Regions from separate parts of the Homo sapiens genome. Here region 2 is linked to region 1. Evidence: fine-mapped QTL for protein levels in blood plasma. Region 1 holds a variant in brackets. A gene starts in the other region. All regions are shown on their forward strands.

Region 1 (8,339 bases):
AGTTCTCTTCAATTCTCTTGTAGTAGTTACTTCTCTTCAAATAGTCAATACATCTTTATATTAAACTTTCCCTGTTCAACTTACTGTGGTTACTGTCTCCTGACTCTCCTTTCATGGACCATGATGCCAAAAATGCAATTACTAGTAGGTGAAAGGTTTGATAGTTTCAAAATCAAGTGAACATAGGGAAATACATGGGCCTTAATATCACTAGAAATTTAAAGAGGCAGAACCAATTTATTCAGCCAGAAATTATGTCTATGAATTTTGTACTTAGAATTGGTATTAAATCATTGTATGGTTTAATGGTAGTGAAATGAAACACAAAACTTTGGAGACTGAGATTTTTGGAAAGATAGAGATGACCCTCCCCTTTCCTCTAGTGGCAACTGCACCAAGAACAGCCTAATACCAGAAAGCCTCCATCTCTTAAGATGTCATGACCCTTAATTGTTAGAAATTCATTGCCATCAGGCTAGGCGTGGTGGCTCATGCCTGTAATCCCAGCACTTTGGGAGGCTGAGGTGGGCAGATCACTTGAGTCCAGGAATTTGAGACCAGCTAGGCCAACACAGTGAGGACCTGTCTCTAATAAAAATACAAAAATTGGCTGGGTATAGTGGTGGGCACCTGTAATCCCAGCTACTCAGGAGGCTGAGGCATAAGAATCACTTGAACTGGGGAGGCAGAGGTTGCAGTGAGCTGAGATTGCGCCACTGCACTCCAGCCTGGGTGACTGGGCAACAGAGCAATACTCTGTCTCAAAAAAAGAATAAAAAAAAAAGAAAGAAAAAGAAAAAGAAAATGTAGTGCTATCAAATTAAGAAAATGCAAAAACCTGCACCAGTTCATCTATCAGATTAGGGCACTCCATCACCGCATACGGAACGCACAGCAATGAAATACTCTAGACCAGTGCTGTCCAATAAAAACAGGTGAGCCACCATATGATCCGTATGTGTCATTTTAATTTTTTTTTTGAGACAGAGTCTCACTGTCGACCAGGCTGGAGTGTAGTGGCATGATCATGGCTCACTGCAGCCTCAACTTCCTAGGCTCAAGCGATTCTCCCACCTTAGCCTCCTGAGTAGCTGGGACTACAGGCACATGCCACCACACCTGGCTAATTTTTCTATTTTTATTTTTTTGAGATAGGGTCTGACTCTGTTGCCCAGGCTGGAGTACAGTGGCACAATCTCAGCTCACTACAACCTCTGCCTCCTGGGCTTAAGTGATCCTCCCACCTCAGCCTCCCGAGTAGCTGGGACTACAGGCATGTGCCACCACACCCAGCTAATTTTTGTGTTTTTTGTAGAGATGAGGTTTCTCCACATTGCCTAGGCTAGTCTTGAACTCCTGGGCTCAAGCGATCTGCCCGCCTTGGCCTCCCAAAGTGCTGGGATTACAGGCATGAGCTACTGTGCTTGGGTTAATTTATAAATTTTTTTGTAGAGATGAGGGCTCACTAAGTTGCCCAGCCTTAAATTTTCTAATAGTCAACATTAAAGCCCTAAAGAGAAACAAGTGAAATTAATTTGAATGATGTATTTATTTAACCCAAAATATAAACAAATTATCTCAAGATGTAATCAACATAACAATGAGATATTTTGTTTATTTTTATTTTTTATTTTTTAAAGTATTTTTTATTTCAATAGGTTTTGGGGGAACAGATAGTGTTTGATTACATGCATAAGTTCTTTAGTGGTGATTTCTGAGATTTTGGTGCACCCATCACCCAAGCAGTGTACACTATACAATTATTAATTATTAATGAGATATTTTACATTCCGTTATTTGTACTGTCTTTGAAATCTGACATGTGCTTTATGCTTGTACTTCTCAGTTCAGACTAGTCACATTTCAGGTGCTTCATGGCCAAATATGGCTAGTGACTACTGTACTGCCCAGTTCTAGAATAGGATTTGACCACACATACTACTTAGTGGGAATGACGATTTGAGAGATCATTTAAAAAAAAAACTGCATTACAAAACCAGACTTCTGTGGCTTTATTGATCATATTAATATTGTATTTTAAGGCCATTTTCTTTTATTGGATACAGATAAACATATTAGTGATTATGTGTGTTTTTTTAGAAACCCAGATTTTCAACCCTGTGTTGAGCAAGTCTTACAAGAGCCATTTTTTCAACAGGATGTGTTCACTTTGTGTCTCTGTGTCACATTTTGGTAATTCATGCAATATTTCAAACATTTTCATTATTTTTATTTTTATTTTTTTTGAGACAGAGTTTCGCTCTTGTTGCCCAGGCTGGAGTGCAGTGGTGCGATCTTGGCTCACCATAACCTCCACCTTCTAGGTTCAAGCAATTCAGCTCAGCCTCCCGAGTAGCTGGGATTACAGGCATGCGCCTCCACGCCCGGCTAATTTTGTATTTTTAGTAGAGATGGGGTTTTGCCATGTTGGTCAGGCTGGTCTCGAACTCCTGACCTCAGGTGATCCACCTGCCTCGGCCTCCCAAAGTACCGGGATTACAGGCGTGAGCCACTGTGCCCAGCCACATTATCATTATTATACCGCTATGGTGATCTGTGATCAATGATCTTTGATGTTACTATGCAATTGTTTTGGGTGTCCATATAAGACGAGAACCTAATGGATAAATGTTGTGTGTTTTCTTTTTTTTCGGTAGGGAAGACAGGGTCTCACTCTGTTGCTTAGACTACAGTACAGTCACACGATCATGCCTCACTGCATCCTTGACATCCTGGGCTCAAGTGATCCACCCACCTCAGCCCCACAAATATGTAGGACTATAGACTCGAGCCACTATGTCTGGGTAATTTTTTTTATTTTAATTTTTTAATTAATTAATTAATTTATTTATTTACTTATTTTGAGATGGAGTCTCACTCTGTCGCCAGGCTGCAGTACAATGGTGTGATCTCGGCTCACTGCAACCTCCACCTCTCGGGTTCAAGTGATTCTTCTGCCTCAGCCTCCTGAGTAGCTGGGACTACAGGTGCGCACCACCATGCCCAGCTAATTTTTTGTATTTTTAGTAGAGATGGGGTTTCACCATGTTGGCCAGGATGGTCTCGATCTCTTGACCTCGTGATCCACCTGCCTTGGCCTCCCAAAGTGCTGGGATTACAGGCATGAGCCACTGTGCCCGGGCAAATTTTTTTTTTATTATTATTTTTTGAGACAGTTTCTCACTCTGCTACCCAGGCTGGAGTGCCAGTGGCCCGATCTCGGCTCACTGCAGCCTCTGCCTCCCAGGTTGAAGTGATCCTCCTGCCTCAGCTTCCCGAGTAGCTGGAACTGCAGGCACGCACCACCACCCTTGGCTAATTTTTGCACTTTTTTGGTAGAGATGGGGTTTTGCCTTGTTGGTCTTGAACTCCTAGGCTCAAGCGATCCACCCAACTCGGTCTCCCAAAGTGCTGGGATTACAAGCATGAGCCAGCACGATCGGCCTGAATTTCTTAATGTTTTCCTTCA[C/CTGTT]TGGGCATTTAGGACCTTGTTAAAGAAGGCCTTTCATCTCCAGAGCCCATGAAGATGCTCTCCCATAGCATCTTCTAGGCTTTAAAACATTCAGAGCTTATTTGCTGTGTGGTGTTGGTGAGGGCTCTAATTTTTCTCCCCGCAACCCAGATAACCAGGGTCACCCAGTTAACAGAGCTTTAGAGTCCACGTTGCTTTCCGTTGCTCACGTCTTCACTGACTGCTCTGTTCATCTGCCTATCTCAGAATCACACCCTTTCTCCAGGACCACTCTCCTTCTGCTGGAAGTACGTTCTTCAGTGAGTTCCTTGAGTCTCACTCTCCTGAGTTTCGTGTTGTGATAAATTCTGTTTCCCATCTGGAAATGCCCTTTACCGTGAGCAGATTCTTGAACAACCATCAATTTCAACTCCTGATTCTAATTTGATGGTGAAGAGTCCCAAGTCACACTCACTGTATCCCATGGCTTCCGGCTCCCACTGTGGCCACTACGAAGTCTACTCTCAGTCTCAGCGTCTGCTCTCTGTAATCTGTGCTTTTTCCTTGGCTGCATTAAAGATCTTCTCTTTGCCTTTGGTGTGCTGCAATTTCATTATGATATGGGTGTGGATTTCTGTGCTTCCTGATTCTGCGTATTCAACCTCCACTGAAATGGGTGACTCGTGGTTCCCAGGTCCCTCCTTCCTCCTTCTGCCCACCCGAGCCTGGGCATCTTACTATGGGGTACAGTTGGGTGAAGGAGCATCATAGAAGCACCCTAGAAGAGATGATTGGTGCATTAGAAGCTGTCTGCCAGGTCTGAGTTGTGTTATGCTTATTCTCTGGGTAGTCTGAGGCAACCCCTGAGAAAGGCAGGTATTACTACAGTCAGAAGAACTGCTCCAGGAATGCATTCCTCCCCAGAAAAATCTCATATCTAAACTGAGAGTAATTCACGTATTATGGAACAATTTTCCAAACATATATATAAATTACAAACCACACCTCTCTCCCACCTCCAAAGTTGTGATGAGATAAAAGCAAAACTGTAGCACCAGCAAAACTAAATAAAACTTTGTAATAAGGCTTTAAGTGCCCTGAATCTCTTCCAAGGATCAAGATGAACCCTAGAGCTGCAATTCCACAATCCACCAGATCCTGGGACTCAGGCCATATCAACATGGTTATCTAGCTGGCATTCCAACCCCAAGAGGTTTCTTACTTGTCTGTTGCTTTCTTATTATCAAGTCCTCACTTAGGTTCTGTGTTCCTTTGCAGCCCAGACCACCCTAGACTCCATACGGCACCTCTATTCCAGCAGTATACCAGGGTCTATTAAAAGAAATCCAGAGAAACAACTCAGATGGAAAGGGCCCTGTGGCGTTCTGTTGACCATTGTCATGACTCTGTGGGGCTCTAGACCATTCTTGAGGATAGGAGGGTGACAAGCCACAAGGTGCACAACCAGCAGTGCACAAGGTGAACTTGAATACAATTCAGAGTCTGCCAAAGCCCTGCGACAGTTTTAGCCAAGAAAGGAAAGGGAGTTACTGTGTGGCATTCAAGATGGACTGAGTGAAGACTACAGATAAGTTTCCTAGGACTGTGTGGAGATGCCAGATAAATAACCTCAGGACTAGTGTATGAAATGGGCTGGGCTAATACTGACTGCTGGACTCTTAAGTCATCATCTTGCTTACTGTCATAGTTTACTGGTGCCTACCAGGAAGGTCCTTCTTCCCCACCTCTGATCACCGTGTTTCTCTTTCAAATGTCTTTTGCAGTGGTTGTCTGACAACTCAATGGTTGGTGTAACACAGGATTTGGCATCTTCCTTAAAGTTATCTGATTGTGTTTATTTCACCCTTGGGACATAATGTGCAAGACCCTAGGATGCTGGAAACATGGCTCTATCCAAGCCCCGAAGGCCTGAGAACCAGGGAAACGGATGGTGTAACTGTCAGTCTAAGGCCAAAGGCCTGAGAAGCAGGGGGGCCACTGGTATTAAGTCCTGGAGTCCAGGGGCTGGGGAGCCTGAAGTTTTTTTTTTTGGAAGATTGGGTTTCACTCTGTCGCCTAGGCTGGAGTGTAGTGGTGCAATCTCAGCTCACTGCAGCTTCACCCTCACAGGCTCAAGTGATCCTCCCACCTCAACCTCCGGAGTAGCTGGGACTACAGGTGCATGCCACCATGCCTGACTAATTTTTGAATATATATATATTTAGAGATGGGGTCTCACTGTGTTGCCCAGGCTGTTCTCAAACTCCTGGGCTTAAGAAGTCCTCTCTTCTCAGCCTCCCAAAGTGTTGGGATTAGAGGCATGAGCCACTGCGACCAGCTGGGAGCCTGCAGTTCTGACAGGAGACTAAGAGTGTATTCCAGCTCCAGCAGATAGATGGATGCAGATCACCTTTTCTCTGTTTTTGTTATCTCCAGGTCCCTGGCAGATTGGATGGTGCCCGCCCACATTAGTCCACTCATACTCTCATGCTGATCACCTCCGGAAACACCTTCACAAACACACCCCACAATAATGCTTTATGAGGTTTCTAGGTATTCCTTAACTCAGTCAAGTTGACATCTAAAATTAACTGTCACACTATTAAATATACGCTGTAGGCAATACATCTATAAAAGGGAGTATACAAAGAGGAAATCAGCCCCCATCTCCCTGGACTTCCATGCCATTTATTTTGAAAGTTAAATTCTGAATTAGCAGAAATCCTTAACATTTGACTTTATGTACAGAAATATGACCCTCTTTATGTATTTTCAGTGTTTACTGGACACTGAAGATACATAAATTTATATTATCAGAAACCTCTTTCAAATAGCCTTCCAAGGTTTGCTAATACAGACTCATCAATCATAGGCCTAAAAGTAAAACCTAAAATTATAAAATTTCTAGGAGAAAACATAAGAGAAAAAAAATCTTTATGACATTAGGGTAAGCAAAGATTTCTTAGTTAAGACACCAAAAGCATAATCCATAAAAGAAAAAGTCAATTACTTGGACTTCACCAAAATTAAGAATGTGTGCTCTTCAAAAGACACTAAGAGAATAAAACACAAGACACAGACTAGGAGAAAATATTTGCAAATCATATATCTGATAAAAGACTTTTTATAAAGGATATGGAAATAATCCTCTGAACTCAATAGTAAGAAAACACACAGCCCAATTTTGTAAAAAATGGGCAAAATATGTGAAAAAACACTTTCATTGAAGAAGATATAGGGATGTCAAGGAAGCATATGAAAATACGTTCAATGTCATTAGTTCATAAGGAAATGCAAACTGAAACCACAATGAGATACTACTTCACATTCATTATAATGGCTAAAAGTAAAAAGACTGACCATACCAAGAACTTAGGAGAATGTGAAACAATTGTAACTCTCATATTTTGTGGGTGGAAATGCAAAAATGGTATGGTCACTTTTGGAAAAACAGTTTGACTGGTTTCTTACACAGTTAAGTATACGCTTACCATTCAACATAGTCACTCTATTCCTAAGTATTTACCCAAGTGAAATGAAAACCTATGTTCACACAAAGATCTGCACGTGAATGTTTGTGGCAGATTTATTTGTTGATTACAAAAAAACTGGAGACAAACCAAATGTCCCTCAGCTACAGAATGGATTAAACTGTGGTGCATCTGTAAATGTTGCTAGAGGGAATGTAATTTGCTGCAGACACTTTGAAAAACTGTTTGGTAGTATTTGCCAAAGTCAAACGTCCTCGAAACATACCCAACAGAAAAGACTTGAATAAGAATGCTCATAGCAGCACATTTGTAATAACTCTGGAATAAAGAGTCTGACTCAATTTTTGATGTTTTACTATGACAGCTTTCAAGCCCCATCACTCCCCTTTCTCATTTTCTCCACACCTGGACATGCCTACAGGTAGCTCATGGTGCTCCCTTCCTTGGTGCAGACGGGCAGTTCAAACCACACAAACTCCAGCCTGTGGGAGAGGGATCCTTCATCCTGGACGCACCTGCCCTCTGCCCAGCCACTATAAAAACCAGAGCCACGTGCCCCTTCTTTTGCTTGAGTGTGGGCCCTGCTGTCCCCAGAAAGCCTCATTACGTGAGTAGTAACTCTTTTCAAATCCTCCTGATGAGTGTGTGGCATCATCAGTCTGGAGCTCCGAATCAATCTTGGGTGGTTTGAAGGGCTGATAACTCCCATCAACAGTGCAGCAGCAAAGCAAACCCCAAATTGGAAACTACTCAAATGCCAAGGCAATAGATGAGGATACAAATACATTTTTTGCATATTTGCCCAATGGAGCCTTTGAAGCAATGAGAATGAATGAACTGCAACTGCACGTCATCTCGCAAACATAATGTTGAACAAATGAAACCAACACAAAAGAATATGTTCTATACGACCGGTTAGCATTTTTAGAAGCTAACTTGTAATGTTAGAAGTCAGGAGAGTTGCTACCATACTTAGGGTGGTAGGTTACTGGAAAGGCGCACAAAGTGAGAACTTTTTGGTACATCAGGCTGTATTTGAAAAGATAAAAATAAATCTGAGTGAGATGGGAGAGGCAGGAGAGGATGATCGGATGCTCCAGCTCTCTGAGTGAAGTTCTGACTCTGCCCTGTTGGGCTGCGGTGTTTAGAATGTGAACCAGTCCCATCCAGTGGACAAATGTAGAAGTGCATGTAAAGGCTTAAAATATAATAGCAAGATGTCTGGTCTGTCTTGGGAGTCTCTGATAGTCGCAGCTAATTTTGGGTGTGGGTGCAGATCCTGGGCTCAGAAATGAAATAGAGCAGGCCGGGCGCAGTGGCTCACGCCTGTAATCCCAGCACTTTGGGAAGCCGAGGCGGGTGGATCACGAGGTCAAGAGATTGAGACCATCCTGGCCAAC
Region 2 (8,339 bases), not on the chromosome of region 1:
AAACTGGACCCCTTCCTTACACCTTATACAAAAATTAACTCAAGATGGATTAAAGACTTAAAGGCAAGACATAAAACCATAAAAACCCTAGAAGAAAACCCAGGCAATACCATTCAGGAGATAAGCATGAGCAAAGTCTTCATGACTAAAACACCAAAAGCAATGGCAACAAAAGCCAAAATTGACAAGCGGGATCTAATTAAACTAAAGAGCTTCTTCACAGCAAAAGAAACTATCGTCAGAGTGAACAGGCAACCTACAGAATGGGACAAAATTTTTGCAATCTATCCACCCAACAAAGGGCTAATATCCAGAATCTACAAGGACCTTAAAAACATTTACAAGAAAAAAAAATCCCATCAAAAAGTGAGTGAAGGATATGAACAGACACTTCTCAAAAGAAGACATTTATGTGATCAACAAACATATGAAAAAAAGCTCATCATCACTGGTCATTAGAGAAATGCAAATCATAACCACAATGAGATACCATCACATGCCAGTTAGAATGTCAATCATTAAAAAGTCAGGAAACAACAGATGCTGGAAAGGATGTAGAGAAATAGGAACACTTTTACACTGTTGGTGGGAGGAGTATAAATTAGTTCAACCGTTGTGGAAGACAGTGTGGTGATTCCTCAAGGATCTAGAATCAGAAATACCATTTGACCCAACAATCCCATTACCGGGTATATAAGGATTATAAATCATTCTATTGTAAAGAAACATGTACACGTTATGTTTACTGCAGCACTATTTGCAATAGCAAAGACTTCAACCAACCCAAATGCCCATCAATAATAGACTGGATAAAGAAAACGTGGCATATATACACCATGGAATACTATGCAGCCATAAAAAGGAATGAGTTCATGTCCGTTGCAGGGACGTGGATGAAGCTGGAAGCCATCACTCTCAGCAAACTAACACAGGAACAGAAAACCAAACACTGCATGCTCTCACTCGTAAGTGGGAGTTGAACAATGAGTACACATGGAAACAGGGAGGGGAACATCACACACTGGGGCCTGTCGGTGGATGGCAGGCAAGGGGAGGGAGAGCATTAGGACAAATACCTAATGTAGATGACGAGTTGATGGGTGCAGCAAACCACCATGGCACATGTATACCTATGTAACAAACCTGCACGCTCTGCACATGTATCTCAGAACTTAAAGAATAATAATAAAAATAAAAGATACCTTTTCCAATTAAAAAAAAGAAAAAAAACTCTTTAGAAGTCAATATTTTGTTTTCACAAGGGGGGATCCATTTCCTGCCCATCACTCAGGATCATTCCTGATCAAGGCCCCTCATTCATCAGGCACCAAATCACAGGCAAGAAATTGGTCTACTCTACTTCATTGCTGAAAAGAAAGCCTCCAAGAAAGAAAGAGAAAAAGCCCTTGAAGCTGCCCCTGCTTGCTAGGGATGGCCAGTGAGCTGGATGAAACAGCTGCAGAGCTTGGATATCTAAAGATTGATTTTATTTATTTCCACTGAGCCACTGAGGTTTTTCAGGTGTAGAGTAAATCCAAAGCCCATTAACTCCAAAGCCATTTTTCAAGGAAAACACAAAAATGAATAATCGCTTGCTGATAATTCCTTTAAATTCCCGCCAGAGTTATGAAATTATTCTTACTACAGAAACAATCATTAAACCACGTCAGACAAACACCTCTGAGGTCAATAATATTCCAAATTTATTCTGCCGAGAATTTTTTAAAACTTCGTATCTGCCACATGTGCAACTCAGGCATTCTTGGAAACCATCCCTGCGGTAGCATATCTTTACTTGGAAGCAGTGGGAAAACTTGGAAGAATATTTGGAGAAATATCCAGACTCTGAGGTCTTTCCAGCATTCCCAATCTGCCCTTCTTTTTTTTTTTTTTTTGAGACACAGTCTCACTCTGTTGCCCAGGTTGGAGTGCAGTGGCATGATCTCTGCCCATTGCAACCTTTGTCTCCTGTGTTCAAGCAATTCTCATGCCTCAGCTTCCTGAGTAGCTGAGACTACAAACACCATCCACCATGGCTGGCTAATTTTTTGTATTTTTAGTAAAGACAGGTTTTCACCATGTTGGCCAGGCTGGTCTTGAACTCCTGACCTCAAGTGATCTGCCTGCCTCAGTCTCCCAAAGTGCTGGGATTACAAGTGTGAGCCACTGTACCCGGCCCTATTTCCTAATAATAAAAAACAGTAACTTCTACTCACTGAGTACCTACAGTGATTTAGTCATTCTTCTAAGCAGTTTAGATACATGAACTCATTTAATTCACACGACAATTCCCTAAAGTACACATGATTAGTATCCTGCTCTTACCCTAGCAGAGAGTGGTTAAGTAAGTTGTCCATGGTATCACAGCTAGTCAGTCACAGAGCCATCATCCAAATGCAGATATCCTGAATTCAGGTTCTACATTAGACTAACCCACCAGGAATGGAGCAGGAAAGAACAGGGAAGACTCCACATTTTTGGCCTCTATTTGGTAATTATAGTTAACTTTTTAGGTAATTATAGACCAATTATCCTAGATGGGCACTTAGAGACTTTGCAGGACAGCAAGAGCTGTCTCTAATCCTGTGCCCATGACAGACATCACCAGTCAACCACAACACAGTATTTAACTAACGCAAGTCAACTCCTCAGAATCTTTAACATTCTTGTTTGTGCTACTGTACCAATCAATCAATTTGATATGAGAGTGTGCAGGAAAAAACAGGAAACAGGTTTGCAGTACCTCCACACCAGTATTCAATGCTGTAATCCGCTGCAGTGACTCCATTAAAGACTTTGCCTCCCTTATACCCTCTCCAACTAGGGTGCCTAGTGTTATGAACAAAGGGATATGTATAGGTTCTTGTGTTGCCTCTCTCTTTGATATTTTTAGCCATCAGATACCTTGTCTGCAATGTGTGCTCAGAGAGTGAGGGGGGAACTAGATGATTGATTTTCCAAATGTGTTCCCTAAATGTGTTCCCTGGGGAATAAGGGCACGAGAGGCTGCCTATTCTATTTCAAACAAATCCCCTTCACTACAGTGTATTTGATGAGTTGGGGTTTGTTTTAATTCCATTTGGAAAAGGGCTTTAGCAGCTAAGCAAATGGTTTTAAAGTGCCTCAGAAGTCAAGATTAATAGAAACTATCCAGTTCTGATGTCCTATCATGCTAAAATTTCAGGGACTAAGATTCTGTGATCATTACATTGAAACACAGCAGCAAAGCTGTGGTGTGTTGTCCTTCCTGGTTCAGAGATGCAACTATGTGCAGGGCTGCTGAGCTCTCTCTGCATCTGGGTGGGAGCCTAATGGAAGTTTTGGGGCTCCTTCCTGGTCTCCAAAATCCTCAAGACCACCATGTGAACACAGGAATCAAGGAAGGTTCTTAGATCGACTCATCCCCCAGGCCTTTGGTTTCCTTGCTCCTTTCCCCAACTACAGGTGTTTCATTTCAACTCATCCCCTAGGGCCTTGGTTTTCTTGCTCTCTTCCCCCACTACAGATGTTTAACTTCATTTCATAACCACATATTCCCCTCCTTTTCCAAGGCAAGATCCAGATGGATTAAAAAATGTACCAAGTCCCTCCTACTAGCTTGCCTCTCTTCTGTTCTGCTTGACTTCCTAGGATCTGGAATCTGGTCAGCAATCAGGAATCCCTTCATCGTGACCCCCGCATGGGCAAAGGCTTCCCTGGAATCTCCCACACTGTCTGCTCCCTATAAAAGGCAGGCAGATGGGCCAGAGGAGCAGAGAGGCTGAGACCAACCCAGAAACCACCACCTCTCACGCCAAAGCTCACACCTTCAGCCTCCAACATGAAGGTCTCCGCAGCACTTCTGTGGCTGCTGCTCATAGCAGCTGCCTTCAGCCCCCAGGGGCTCGCTGGGCCAGGTAAGCCCCCCAACTCCTTACAGGAAAGGTAAGGTAACCACCTCCAGAGCTACTAGGTCAGCAAGAATCTTTACAGACTCACTGCAAATTCTCCATTTGAAAAATAGGGAAACAGGTTTTGTGGGTGGACAAGAAATGCCTCAACCTCACATCCAGTCACTGGAAGAGCCAGAACTAGAAAGCTCCCGAGTCTTTTCCCCACATTCAAGAGGGTTGCTGGGTGCATCCATACCCAGCTATCCTTACAGTGTTTGGGAATGGGGAATGGCTCTGTCTTACTGTGGGCATGGTGGGCATTTTTGGCAGTGGGAGAGAAGGAAAATCTGTTGATTAGAAGCTCAGTATGTTAATTCGACTCCAGGACAGCTTTCAGAGACAGTGGCTAAGAGAAGAACGAGGTCCCAGGGGGATCTCTTGAGGTGACTTATTTTGACACTCTTTGGGAAAGTTATCTAGGAGATTTGTTCCATAACTCATTTTCCCATACTCTGGTGACAAATTTACTGAGTGTATCGGTCCCACTGAGCCAGTGCATAGCATGGTAACAAACAGTTCTAAATTATCAATGACTTAACAGAATTAACTAAATTAACAAAAGTTACTTTCTCACTTGTACTAAATATCTATAATGTATGGGCTCAGGCTTCTGCATTTTATACTCAGGATTCTAGACTGATGGAGAAGTTGCCCATGTGGGGGAACATTGATGGATACTGTGATAAAGCAGAAGAAAGCTCTCAGGAGTCTTGCATAGGCAATGCACTGTGGCTCAAAAATGACACCCATCACTTTGTCTCCTTCTTTATTGATCAAAACTAATTAATGCCTCCAACCAAACAAAAGTGGCCAAGAAATGCAAGTCTACCTTGTGTCTCAAAACAGAGGATGGAGAATATTTGGTGAAAATTACCATGACCATCACATGGCCACGTAGGTCTTTATAATGACAGAGCTAGCATTTGTCACATTGACCAAGCTTTGTCCATACACTCTACAGTAATGATGAGTCCTCAGTGCACAGGGGAGGATGCTGAAGACACAGGACAGCATCCTCCAGACACATAAGACTTCAGAGCAGAGGGATTCTCCCTCCACCTCTCGCAATTCCTTGCTTTCTCCTAACTTCCTTTACAAAGTCATGCTTGGAAATGTCTATGTATCATCATGTGGCTCATTTTTTTCTCTGTTCATTTTTTTTCCCCAAAATTCAGCTTCTGTCCCAACCACCTGCTGCTTTAACCTGGCCAATAGGAAGATACCCCTTCAGCGACTAGAGAGCTACAGGAGAATCACCAGTGGCAAATGTCCCCAGAAAGCTGTGATGTAAGTAAATAAAGTTCACCCTCCCCTAGACAAAAAAATAATGTCTAGGGCACAGAGTCAAGAACTGTGTCACAGTTGCTGGGAGTCATAGACTCTGATAGTTTGACCTCTATGGTCCAATTCATTAATTTTCACAAGTGAGTGTTCACTCCCAGCTCCCTGCCTGGGAGATTGCTGTAGTCATATCAATTTCTTCAAGTCAAGAGCAAAGATGGTTTTACTGGGCCTTTAAGAGCAGCAACTAACCCAAGAGTCTCATCCTTCCTCCTCTCCGTAGCAACCCTTTGTCCAGGGGCAGATGGTCCTTAAATATTTAGGGTCAAATGGGCAGAATTTTCAAAAACAATCCTTCCAATTGCATCCTGTATCTCCCACAGCTTCAAGACCAAACTGGCCAAGGATATCTGTGCCGACCCCAAGAAGAAGTGGGTGCAGGATTCCATGAAGTATCTGGACCAAAAATCTCCAACTCCAAAGCCATAAATAATCACCATTTTTGAAACCAAACCAGAGCCTGAGTGTTGCCTAATTTGTTTTCCCTTCTTACAATGCATTCTGAGGTAACCTCATTATCAGTCCAAAGGGCATGGGTTTTATTATATATATATATTTTTTTTTTTAAAAAAAAAACGTATTGCATTTAATTTATTGAGGCTTTAAAACTTATCCTCCATGAATATCAGTTATTTTTAAACTGTAAAGCTTTGTGCAGATTCTTTACCCCCTGGGAGCCCCAATTCGATCCCCTGTCACGTGTGGGCAATGTTCCCCCTCTCCTCTCTTCCTCCCTGGAATCTTGTAAAGGTCCTGGCAAAGATGATCAGTATGAAAATGTCATTGTTCTTGTGAACCCAAAGTGTGACTCATTAAATGGAAGTAAATGTTGTTTTAGGAATACATAAAGTATGTGCATATTTTATTATAGTCACTAGTTGTAATTTTTTTGTGGGAAATCCACACTGAGCTGAGGGGGACAAAGATGGCTGTGGCCAAGAGGGGCTTGGTTAAGGGGGTGGGAACTATGTCCCTGGGAAATGAGTTTTTGGCTTAGCTGGTCTTCATTGAAATGCAGGGTGAAACTGACAAACCCATTCCAGCCCTCTATTCCCATTTTCAACAGTATTTCCCAGACCCCAAACTTCAGCCACGAAAATATCTGGAGCTTTGCCACCATTCCTTTCCTCCCCACCTCATACTTGCCTCTCCTGGGACCTATTTTAACAGCCCTGTGGTATCTCCCTCTACCCGACCCTGCTCCTCGGTCTTCCAACCCAGACTAGGCAGACATGACAGACACTGGAAATCAGAGGAAGGCTAGGTGACCTTTGACCAGAGGTTTAGGTGCAGGTTTTACAGGTGTGGTGGAGCTTAAAGTGGGTCTTGTGCATGCACAAAGTGGAGAGGCTCTGCTGGAGGTATTTCAGTCTAGGTAGAGGAGAAGGGGTGTTGCTTGGGCAAAATCCAAGAAGTAGGAATGATCATGCTGCATTTACCCAGTTGGGTGGGAGCCCATCAAAAGATGTCAGTGTTGGAGTATGTGTGAAATGGTGGGGAAATTTGGAAAGAAGTTTGAGACCAGGCTGTCTAGGTGGGGAGTTTGTGCTCCATGTAAGGTGAACATATGGTTCTTCCCAGCCCAGTTAGGATGCTTTTGAGAGCAGAAAAGTGGTATTATTCATAATTATTCTGGAACAACGGATATAAATTAACACTGTCCTAAGCAAACTGGAGCATGTGGTCACTCTAGGAATAGAATGCATTGCAAGTTTTGATTCAGTGGAGAGAAGTGCCATGACCACACTATGAGGGGCTTCAGGAAGGGCAGCCAGGTGGCCATGGGCTGAATTGGGAGGAGAAGGGAGAAGCACTTAGCTCACTATTGCAGTGTATGGAAGATATGGAACTGGGGCATTGGTAGTTGGGAGGGGAGAAGATAATTGGAAGAATGGCTGAGGCAGGGTGGAATGCCAAATGTTGTGGTTGAAGAAGTAGAACCAATGACATGGAAACTTTCTAAATGCCAAAGCTGCAATTAAAGGTTAGCTTCTTAGACCCAGAAAATTAATTTCTCTCTGTCACTGTTTACTCACACCTTAACTTTACTAGCTTGAGAGCTTTCAATCAAATGGACAGGACCTCATCTTCCTGTATAAGCAACTTAAATCAGGATTCCCTTTCAGCATACAAAATCAGCTTGCGTTTCCATTGGTCACATTACCTATGTACCTGAACGCAGAGACCAACTATGTCCCCAAGGGTAGAAAAGGGTCACAGGTGCCCTGCTGGTATAACTCTGCATGGTCTAAGGCCATTGATCTGGAGGGCCAATGGCCTACTGTGTCATGCATGCCCAGCAGGGTCGCTGCATGCAAAGCTCCCAGAGGCACCATTCATAAGGCTGTCCCCCTTGGACTGTGTGGTGGCAATGGCACAAGGCAATATAAAGAACAGAATGAGACATTAGGAAGGGCACTGATCTAGGAGGCAGATGACCTCAGTTTCATCACAGACAGAGAACTGGTCTCTGTCACTGTGTTACTTTTGGCTTTAGTTACCCCATCCATAATAGGGGTATATTAATATCTTTTAAGGGATCTGACCAATGACCCACCAAGATCTCCTGTTCTGAGAGCACTACCTCTTGGAAAGCATCACTACCTCCACCCATTGAGGGAGGGAATGTTGTCAGAGGGTTCCACACTCACAAGCCCAAGTCGGACAGGGGCCAGGATAACTGGCACACTTACTCTATTTCTAGAAGATTTCTCTGTGAGAGCCGCAAGTAGAAGCATGGATCCCTAGAACCATCAGAGAGCTTTTTGTATCTACTACAGAAGGGCTCCCACTCAGAGCAATCACTGGCCCTCACTCTGAGTACAAAAAACCTCTCTGCCTCTCCTATAGCCTAGCAGACTTTAGCCCTAAACATCAATCAGGATGTACCTCCAGAGGTCAGCATGTCCAGGAGGCATGGGATGGCCACAGAATAGCTCACTGGGATCAGTAGACCCTCAGGTTTCAGGTCAGTCTTCACGAGGAGATCAAGAAGGGGAGTAGAGGGAAGAGGTGCCCTCTGTTTGTGAAGGACTGAACAGAATTTGCTCATATCCCCTATTCCTC

Which allele goes with the higher level. Positions count from the first base shown, and alleles are read on the strand shown. Strength reflects both the effect of a copy and how common the allele is.
For the plasma level of the protein whose gene starts at base 3,754 in region 2, allele CTGTT in region 1 goes with a lower level than allele C (moderate association).

The links. A credible set is the group of variants that fine-mapping cannot tell apart. PIP is the posterior inclusion probability: the model's chance that the variant is causal. Protein levels are from antibody-based Olink assays in UK Biobank. Linkage for the fine-mapping came from a reference panel and not from the study's own genotypes, which makes the PIPs less certain.
Region 2: it holds the start of CCL11, and the variant in region 1 is the best candidate, but not a certain one, in a credible set for the plasma level of the CCL11 protein (UK Biobank, PIP 0.60).

Annotation. Positions count from the first base shown.
Region 1 is chr3:42,831,734-42,840,072 of GRCh38, forward strand. All of the region lies in intron 2 of ACKR2 (atypical chemokine receptor 2), which reads left to right. LOC124909373 (a long non-coding RNA gene) reads right to left here. Exons shown (of 2, transcript XR_007095895.1): 2 at 1,998-4,226. Among named protein-coding and RNA genes, the nearest start is that of ACKR2, 26 kb to the left of the region's middle. RefSeq lists an enhancer at 4,884-5,178 and a silencer at 4,884-5,178. The variant C/CTGTT (reference allele first, on the strand shown) is at 3,470.
Region 2 is chr17:34,281,989-34,290,327 of GRCh38, forward strand. CCL11 (C-C motif chemokine ligand 11) reads left to right here and starts at 3,754. Exons shown (of 3, transcript NM_002986.3): 1 at 3,754-3,896; 2 at 5,108-5,219; 3 at 5,597-6,346. The coding sequence starts at 3,821. The coding sequence ends at 5,702.